Linked DNA regions of Homo sapiens: all the other regions are reported to be linked to region 3. The links are microRNA targets in miRTarBase. Many come from high-throughput screens and were not tested one by one. Region 3 holds a microRNA gene; each other region holds the end of a gene's coding sequence.

Evidence for each region. Region 3 holds the annotated microRNA hsa-miR-200c-3p (UAAUACUGCCGGGUAAUGAUGGA, at 1,969-1,991, shown strand). A microRNA usually pairs through its seed, bases 2 to 8, with sites in the 3' UTR of a target mRNA and lowers its output. Matches are read on the target gene's strand: a 7mer-m8 pairs with bases 2 to 8, a 7mer-A1 pairs with bases 2 to 7 and ends in A, and an 8mer does both.
Region 1: miRTarBase lists VAC14 as a target of hsa-miR-200c-3p. The part of its 3' UTR that is shown has no 7-base or 8-base seed match.
Region 2: miRTarBase lists ZFPM2 as a target of hsa-miR-200c-3p. Seed matches in the 3' UTR shown: 7mer-m8 at 2,210-2,216, 7mer-m8 at 1,671-1,677 and 7mer-A1 at 1,650-1,656.

The regions. Positions count from the first base shown.
Region 1 is chr16:70,685,267-70,688,266 of GRCh38, reverse strand. It overlaps VAC14 (VAC14 component of PIKFYVE complex), which reads left to right. Exons shown (of 19, transcript NM_018052.5): 19 at 177-828. The coding sequence ends at 339. MTSS2 (MTSS I-BAR domain containing 2) reads left to right here and starts at 2,214. Exons shown (of 15, transcript NM_138383.3): 1 at 2,214-2,544. The coding sequence starts at 2,476. RefSeq lists an enhancer at 180-686.
Region 2 is chr8:105,802,966-105,805,965 of GRCh38, reverse strand. It overlaps ZFPM2 (zinc finger protein, FOG family member 2), which reads right to left. Exons shown (of 8, transcript NM_012082.4): 8 at 1,427-3,000. The coding sequence ends at 2,428. All of the region lies in intron 2 of ZFPM2-AS1 (ZFPM2 antisense RNA 1), which reads left to right. Among named protein-coding and RNA genes, the nearest start is that of ZFPM2-AS1, 260 kb to the left of the region's middle. RefSeq lists an enhancer at 2,550-3,000.
Region 3 is chr12:6,961,774-6,965,031 of GRCh38, forward strand. It overlaps MIR200C (microRNA 200c), which reads left to right and starts at 1,926; the gene lies at 1,926-1,993. It overlaps MIR200CHG (MIR200C and MIR141 host gene), which reads left to right and starts at 1,472. Exons shown (of 2, transcript NR_135032.1): 1 at 1,472-1,575; 2 at 2,428-2,674. It overlaps MIR141 (microRNA 141), which reads left to right and starts at 2,324; the gene lies at 2,324-2,418. It overlaps LOC105369634 (a long non-coding RNA gene), which reads right to left and starts at 1,326. Exons shown (of 2, transcript XR_931601.2): 1 at 766-1,326; 2 at 1-348. RefSeq lists enhancers at 1-584, 1-325, 134-343, 585-1,386, 3,169-3,218.

The DNA.
Region 1 (3,000 bases), not on the chromosome of region 3:
TCAGGGGCTTCCCAGCTCTGGGGCCCGCCATGACGGAAGAGTTGCCAGGCCTGAGACAGACGCCCACAGGCCGAGCCCACCAGCCTGTGGCTCTGCCTCTGACCCCACTGCCCTCCAGCAGTAACCCCCCTGTGAGCTGATCCCTGACACTGAGCATTTCTGCTCCCTCTTCCCAGAGACAGTCTAAAGGCAGCCCCCAAGTCCCAGAAAGCTGACTCCCCTAGCATCGACTACGCAGAGCTGCTGCAGCACTTTGAGAAGGTCCAGAACAAGCACCTGGAAGTGCGGCACCAGCGGAGCGGGCGTGGGGACCACCTGGACCGGAGGGTTGTCCTCTGACAGGCCTGGCACGGAGGAGGGCCCACCGAGTGGTCCCATGAAACACTAAGGGTCGTCACGCCCTCCCGAGGAGCTCAAGGACCTGCCTGTCAGGACCAGGGCTGGGCCTGCCAACCCAGGGCAGTGTTGGGGCCGGAGGCTGCTGTGTCTGCCCAAGCTCCTCTCAGAGTCCAGTCCCCAGGCCTCCAGCGCTGTCAGCTGCACCCTGGCATTCTCACAGAGCTGGCTGCCCACCCAGTGGGGGGCTATAGCCTCAGAGACCACTCATCCTCTGGAATCAACCTCTTTCTAATACCCTCTTGGAAAAAGAGCTTGCCCCTCCTCCAGCACACTAGAGCTCTGGCCTTGTGTGTATATGTATACATACGTGAACACATGCCTGTGTGTGTGTGTGTGTGTGTGTACTTGTATGCACGTAGGCACCAGCACAAAGATCTGAATGATGCACCCCACCCCCACCCCAATAAAGAAATAACAGAAAACCCTCAACCCGAGCCGGCCTGCTCCTTCCCAGCTGACACGTGCAGCTGTCCGGGGGCCTCACCCTCTGTCCTGGAGATCGGGTTTCATGATGGCCCCAAGGAGTACTGGCTGCCCCAGGGCCTGGTCCCTGCACTCACCTGAGTGGAGCCATGGGCCTAGAGCCTAGGTCCCCACCTCTGGAACCTGCACCCTCCTGGAGAGCACCATGCACTGCCTGCCCTGGAATCCTGAACCCTGCCTTCCCCAATCTGCCTTTCTCATCCTGACTCCCTGGGGCAATGGGAGTTCCCCACTGGGGACATGGGAGCTGAGCCCCAGGAGTTCCTGGATGAAAGGGCAATGCACACTGCAGAACACTTTGCAGATCTCGGGGCAAGGGGAGGAAAAGCCCAGAGCAGTCCAGGGAGGGGCAGGTGCCCCAACCACTGCTGCAGCTGAAAGCCCTTCCTCACCGGGAGTGGTACCACCTGTCCCCAGGCTTTGGGAACCCTGGGCTTGGTCTCCTAATGAGCTTGTAATTGGCTCCCTCCGGCCCATGGAGTAGGCGAGAAGGAGCTTGTGCCTGCTCTTCCCCAGAGTGCGCTCCCCCATCGTGCTGCCCCCCAGGGTGGGTTTCCCTGCCTGGAGTCTCCAGGACAGGCTGCGATTGACATTGCTACCCCATGCACGTGTGTGCATCGCACCCACCGTGGACTCAGGCAGCAGAGACCAAGGACACTCCAGCTCTGCTCTGCAGGTCCGACATTAGCCCCCACCCGCGAAGAAGGAGGTTGTTCAAGGCCCAGGAGACTACCACTGCCCCCCAAATGCCCAGCCTTGGGCACCCCATCCGGGTGGCATCGGCACCACTTGGAGAAGGAGCCAAGGAACTTGGAAGGGTCCGAACTTGAGGAAGGTCTGTGCCTGCGATGAAACGTCCCAAGGCGGGCGGCTCCACGATACCCCGCGCCCTGCTGTGTGCGGTGTATGCCACCCATCCAGCCCATGCACCGACCCCATCCCGCCACTGTACCCACTGCCTGTCTTTAGAAGCGCGAGAAGCCCCCCGCCCCAGACCAAAGGCCAGAAGATATCGTGGAGCCCCTGCCCGGGGGCCGAGGCCCAACCGCCAGTCCCGCTCCTGCGTGGGCAGGGCGGGCCCCGCCCAGCGCCGCCCCCCGACCCTCGGTGGCGCCCGCGCCCGTCGGCCCCGCTCGCCGGACCAGTCTGGCAGCGCCCGGGCTCGGATTTCAAAGCCCTGGTTTCTGGCCGTGAATGGGCCTGCGCCCGCGCGGCCGTTCCCACAGCCCCCTCCCGCGCGGCCCGCCCTCCTTCCCTCCCTCCTCGCGGTCCCCCCTCCGCCGCGCCCACGTGACGCCCGATCCTCGGCGGCTCGGATTACCGCCGCCGTCAGTCCCCGCGCCGAGGCTGCGCCGCGAGCTGCCCGCGCCGCGCCCCCCGCGCCGCCCGCCAGCCCCGCTGCGACATGGCCCGCGCCGCCCGCCGGAGGCCCGCGACCCCGGAGCGCGGCGCGGCCGGCCGCTGAGCGCAGCCTGGAGGCGGGAGGCCCGGCCCGGCCTCGGAGCGAGCGCCCGCGCGGCCTGGCCCCCTCCCTTGCGCTGCTCCCCGCGCTCCGTGCGCCTAGCCGCCGCCGCGGCCCGGCCCAGCCAGAGCATGGAGACGGCGGAGAAGGAGTGCGGCGCCCTGGGCGGGCTCTTCCAGGCCATAGTCAACGACATGAAGGTAACCGGGGCGCGGCGGGGCCGGGCGCGCGGCGACGGGTGCGGGACCCCCCGGGGACGCGTGGCGGCGGGTGGCCGAGCCTCGTGTGGCCGCGCGCCGCGGTGTCTGTGTGTCCTTGTCTGAGCGCGTCCTGCCTGCGTCTGCTGGGCGCCCGTGTCTCCGGGTGCCCGTCTGGGGGTGTGGGTGCTCGTGTGTCGGGGTGTCCGTGCGGTGCCCGCGGTGGCCCCGTGGGGTCCTGACCCGAGCCTGTGCACACGCAGGCTCCCTGCGCCCCAGACCGCCAAACCATGAATGGGGTTTGGATCCAGGACCGACTCTAGGGCCCTTTAACGAGTCCGGGGTCTTACCGGCCTCCGCCCCCTTCCACCACCATGTTCCCCCACGGCCCCGGAGCCCAGACAATGCTGTCACCGCCAAAGCAGGAAAAAATAATAAAGCGGAGAACCGTTAACTCCT
Region 2 (3,000 bases), not on the chromosome of region 3:
CTTTCAATATTTCCCAACACTGTTTGCATATTAGAACCACCTGGAGAGGTTTTATAAGGTACAGATTCTCAGAGCTCACAGGCTTGAGTGTTTCTTTAATTGATCTAGGGTAAGGCCCAGTGTACAAAACTATATAAATAACTGGCATTTTTAAATGTTCCTTAGGCAATTTTAATGAGAGAAGTGTTGAGAAGCACTAAATTGAATCAAATTATAAGCTCTTTGAGGAAATAGTCATGTGTTATATTTCTTTGCCTTCATCCCCTAAATAGTGGATACAAGCCACGTAATCAATAAATATATGTCGGTTTGGCTAATTTTTTTTCTTTCTTTCTTTTTGAAGAGGAAAGAGGACGAAAAAGAGATTGGGGAAGAAAGTCCTCTTAAGAATACTCAGCCCTACCAATTCCAACCTGTGCACCACAAAGGTCTTTCTGAACATCTCCATTGATCCCCAAGGATCTCATACTTTGAGAGATTCCTGTTTCACACTATTAAGCACATTAGTCCTGTTCACCTCACTGTTTAATCACTGACTGAAATGGAAGGCATCAGTTAATTCCGTGATTTCAATTCTGAAAATAGTTATTCTCAACAAGCAAGTGGAGACATGTTTTTGACAACATAGTATTTTTTTTTTATGTTTTGTCACAGTATTTGTATGTTATGCTTAAGGCCAACATTTATGCTCGTTATGTTACCAGATTCAATATGGATGAACAATAGTGCATCACAACCTATCTATCTGTAAAGAGTGTATCTTCTTAGCCTCAAGTGGGTAGTTGCCTTTCCAAGTCAGGAGATTTCTAATTTTGCAGGAGACCATCATGCCTGCCAAGTCACTCTCAATGCTTCTGGCTGGTCCATTAGGCCCACATTCTCTGCTCTCCACTCACCCTCAATATGCAAACTCCTGGATTATACAAATGAGATGTACAAAATCAATCTTTTACAAATCCTGAGCATTAGATTTGCACATCTTTACTCATCAGAGTCACTTTACCATACCACGTCACCATTGCTCAAAATGCAAACCTCTCTCTCTGGTAAATTTCATCTGAATCTTGGGTGCATTTGACCAACATTTGTGTTGATTCTTGTGCATATGGCTTGTAAGTTTTGTAGACATGCATGAAATTGCTCTTTATCTGTGCTGCAGCGATGATGGGGAAAGGCAGACAGAGAGATTCTGCTAATTATACATAGTTATAATGAAGAACTTTTCTAGTTTCGTGGCCTGGAGCCTCTAGTTCATTTTAATAGAGCAAGTTATATTAATTAGGTGTATGTAAAGGACAATCTTTCTCTTTACTGATTTGTCATTGTGTTATTACAGCCATTCGGTGCCATTTGGAAACTATTTTCATCACAAAGAATAGATTTAGGGCTTCTCTTCTATTTTGAAGGGAAAAAAAGTGTGCCAAACTTCTCCAACAATCTGGAATTTTATTCCATCCATATACATGCATAGTAACAACATTTGTTGAGAAATTATTTCTATCAGAAGTAGAACATTATCTTTGTGATCACCAGGTGCAGTATTGCTACTCTTATATTTAAATAGATCTTATATATGAATTAAATTCATACTTGCAGCATTGAGTTTAGGGTTTCGATTTAGACTGTGCCTTTCAAAAGATAAAACTGATTAATACTACCTCATTACTTACAATACTGCTTCCAGTAATTTTGTTCATTCTTTATAAAGTATTGCATTTAACAGCAAAGGTTTAAAAATTGAGACAGAGCTGCATCAGCGAAAGAAAATACAAGTACTATACAAGAAAAAAATTGCCATCTTCATTTAACATACAGGTTCAGGATTAAGAAAATGGACGGAAACATACAGCTACATACAAATGCAAAGCCTAGTGACTAAGAGACTGTATCTGCTAAAATATAAAGTGCAAACAGAGCCTGATTATCCAAGAATTGAAATCTTAAGGCGAACTTATAGCATGTGTATTTAGAACATCTTTGCAAGTTATATTTTAGCATATACATATATCTGCAACAGCATATAAGAAAAAATCAAGATACACAAGTGCTTTTGAAGCTATTTCTAAAATGCTTTTCTGTATTGTGACTATTTTCTTTAAAAGCTACTATACAGTGCAAACCATATGTGCTACACAATAACTATACAATAACATTACAAATGACTTTAATATAAAGTTTTTAAATAAAAAATAACATAACCACAGCTATGAATACTGCTGGTAAAATAAATTAATTTTTTTGAAAATGGCACCAATAATACACTTTACTAATGGACTGTAATGAAATTACACCTTAAGTCTTCAACTCAGCCATAATGAATTATCTCCTGATTGCCCAGATGTAATTCAAACAGCTTATTTTTTTTTCTGGACTGGTTAGAACAACATACTAAACACTGATACCAAAGGTGACTGATGTTTAGTTAGTTCATTTGACATGTTCTGCTGCATGTGATGAGCAATAAAACTTCTTGTGAGTTATAAAGTTTGAAAGGTTGTTGAACTGGATATCACATAGCCGGCAATATTTCCCACTGGTTGGAGCCTGGCTGGAACCATTCACACCTTTTGCTATACTAGACAACTGTTCCTCTGCTGAGGGAATTCCTGGTGAGACATTCTCATTGGCAGCTAATGGGTTCTCAGAGATCCACGAGGGAGATTTGTGGTCGTCTTCGTGCTGAGGATTCTGGGAAATGTTCTCTTGCTGTGGGTTGGCAGCAGGTCTCTCATCTTGTTTCAGTCCACCATTCACTATTACCATTCCTCGATTTTTGGGCAACAATGGCAGAGAATCTTTCTTCAGCGCAGCACACCCATTTGAGGAAGCCTGGCCTTTAGGAGATTCATTTTCTGCATTTCTGCTTTGCTCGATGTCAGTGTTATGGATGACAAGAGAACCAGAAATATAATCACTTGGCTTGATTCCATAATATGGAGAAAGCTGGTCGGCTCCTTTTGCTTTCTTTATTGCTCCAGGGTAAAGGCATTGTGGAAGAAA
Region 3 (3,258 bases):
AGAGCCCACACTCCTTACCCTGGAGTTGCAGCTGGGGCCACCCTCAGGGGGGCCCTGATCACACTCCCCTGATGCTGAGTTCCAGATCTGAACTAAGAAGAGTAGTTAACAGCCGGAAGCGCAGACCTGAGGCCAGCCCGGCTGCGTCCCCTCTGGCGGGAACAGGGACAGGCTCCTCAGAGCACCCGGGCACGCCCAGCTCCTCCCCTCATCCAGGCCGCTGCTGCCCTTATCCTCTTGGGCAGAGTTTGAAGAGCTGGCTGACGTGAAGAGTGCTTTGTTTTTTGTCCCCTCTTCCTTCCCCCATGTCAGGAGTGGGGTTTCTTCTTTATTTGAAACACTGGTGTCCTGGGGAGTAAAGCCGGTGGGAGTCATCCCTCAGGAAGTGCTGGCGCCCACTCCTGGAAAGGCTGAGACAGCACAGGTCCCAAAGCCCAGAGGCTGGGCGTGCATTACTCAGCAAATCCTTACAGAGCCCCCGGCGTCACAGGCATTCACAGTCCCCCGACCTCCTGGAACTTAGGAGGCTGGTCAGGGAGACAGATTCACAAACCGATCACAAGCATCAAATAATTGCAGGCGGGTATTAAGAAGGAAGCAAACAAAGCCTGGGAGAGAGAACAGCGAGGGATTGAGCAACCCAATAGCTCCCTGGGGCTGTGGCCCTCCAGGGCACGGGTGGGGCAATCACCTGTCGGGCCCAGGTCCCCTCTCCCAGCAACGCCCTTTCTATACAAGCCGCAGCTGCACAAAGGCAAGTCCCACCTCCTCTAACCGCCCTTGGGCTACCTGCCCTTGGGGTGGGACTTGGACTCCACTGAGGGCTGTGCTGTGAGGTGGGTCCGGGAGCAGCTCGGTCCGGAGAGTGGAGCGCGATCGTTCCCTCTGCAGGCCTCAATCGAGGGGCAAGGCTGATGCTCCGGGCCAGCTGGGGTCTCTGGGTAGCGGTGGGTAACTTCACACTAGCGACACCTTGCTGGGACCCGCCTGCCCTTCACAGGCCTGGCGGGGCCTTCTCCCTCCCCTTTCCCTCAGGGGATCCCAGCACAGGCTGGGCACTGCGGGGCGGCACAGCCCAACTCCTGCCCAGCTGACCCCTCGCTGACCTCAGGGATCTCTCTGGCCTGCAGCTCCGCTGTGGGCAGGGTCTGAGGCCACAGAGGAATGGGCTAGTCCTGGGGGCAGCATCTGCTGTGGGGAGGGGACCCAAGGACAGCCCCCGCTTTTTGTACCTCTGGAGACAGGGGTGAGACTAGGCAGGTTGGAGAAAAGAGGCCCCTGGGAGAGGGTGGGAGGCCTAGAGGAGTGGCCAAGCCTTAGAGGAGGTGCCCGTGGCTGGCGCTGGGAGGGAAGGGGTTAAGGCAGTGGGGGGGCAGCCTATGGCAGGAGGACACACCTGTGCGCAGGGTGGCAGGCGGGGCCCAGGTAAGGAGCCTGCGCTGGCTGCCCGGCAGGCGGAGAAGGAAGGAGGAAGAGCGGAGGCCAGGGCGGGCTCTAGGCCGTGGAATCTGGGGCCTTAAAGCCCCTTCGTCTCCCCAGCACCCACTCTCTGGGGGCAGGTGGGCCCGGTGACAGGTAAAGGCCACCAGGGGAGAGGTCCTGGGCTGAGCTTGGGACTGCAGAGGGGGGATGAGGGTGGGTAAATCGGTGTGTGTCGCGGGTCGGGAAAGGCTGCCGGGGGTAGGGGAAGGTGGCTCAGAGGCGGCGGGCCGACGGTCGAGGGGCTTCGGAGGGCCTGCTTGGACTGCAACCTGGGCCTCGTGATCAGCGACCCAGGGTGTGGCTGGTGGCGGGCAGCAGGGCTCACCAGGAAGTGTCCCCAGGGACTCGGGTGGTGGGGGGATGGGAGCCAGGGATCTGCAGCTTTTCCGCAGGGATCCTGGGCCTGAAGCTGCCTGACCCAAGGTGGGCGGGCTGGGCGGGGGCCCTCGTCTTACCCAGCAGTGTTTGGGTGCGGTTGGGAGTCTCTAATACTGCCGGGTAATGATGGAGGCCCCTGTCCCTGTGTCAGCAACATCCATCGCCTCAGGTCCCCAGCCCTTAGCTGGCTGCAGCCCCCTCCCCACTTCCCACGCACCCCGGAAGCCCCTCGTCTTGAGCTGAGAGCGTTGCACAAGGGGTGGTTCTTGTTGGCTGGCTGCCACTAAGGGACACAATGGGCCCCAGCCCCTCCTCCCACCCAGTGCGATTTGTCACCTGGTGGATCCAGAACCCACAGTCGACCTTGAGCTTGGGGTTGGCTCGCCCCCTCTCAAGAGACCTCACCTGGCCTGTGGCCAGGGTCCCCTGTAGCAACTGGTGAGCGCGCACCGTAGTTCTCTGTCGGCCGGCCCTGGGTCCATCTTCCAGTACAGTGTTGGATGGTCTAATTGTGAAGCTCCTAACACTGTCTGGTAAAGATGGCTCCCGGGTGGGTTCTCTCGGCAGTAACCTTCAGGGAGCCCTGAAGACCATGGAGGACTACTGACCAACAACCTCTGACCTTCACCCCTCTGGATGGGGGACGAATCACTAGGCAAAGGGGAACAATGGGAAGGAGACAAAATGGCTGCCTTTACAGCTGCAGCAAGATGTGGAAACACTGGTTCCCTAGGCACCTCCATTGTCTTCCCGCCTTGGGAGCATGAAATAAATAAAGTGTGAAGGGGAACATGAGGAAGACTGATCCAAGTCACTTGACCTGTCTTTTGTCTAGTTGTTTATCTCATCTTAGCCTCCCAGCAACTCAGGATTGGGGCTGCGACGTCTGCTTTGTCTTTCATGATACTCAACCCCAAGCAGAGAAAAATATCTTAAAAATCGAAGCAGATTAACCCAGTCCCTCTGTTCAGATCCACCTGCTGCCCTATCTGCATTTGGCAGTTCCTGGACATACTTTGCACCTATGTTTTGTCTGAGTTCCACATCTTCCTTGTCTCCCCGCAGGGATGGGAAATGGGCAGTAGTGGGAGATTCAGGTATAAACGGTGGCTCTGTTTCTCTGGTGCCTGAGATTCGGGAAGGCCTGTCTTGGGAAGATAAGTGTCAGCTTATCTGTGGACTGAACAGACAGGCACCTGTTCTGTTGGCCCCGGAACTGCGGGCATGAAAAGCCCACCTCCCCAGGGGAGGCCTGTTAGCTAGCAGCTCCTCACGCCTGGTGACTGAGAAATGGAGTCTGGGGGGCCTACAGCAGGCCACGCGATCCACTGGGCTTCTGGGCACAGAAGTGCCTCAACAGGCACAGGCAGGCTCCCCACAGCCACAAGGAACCCTGCT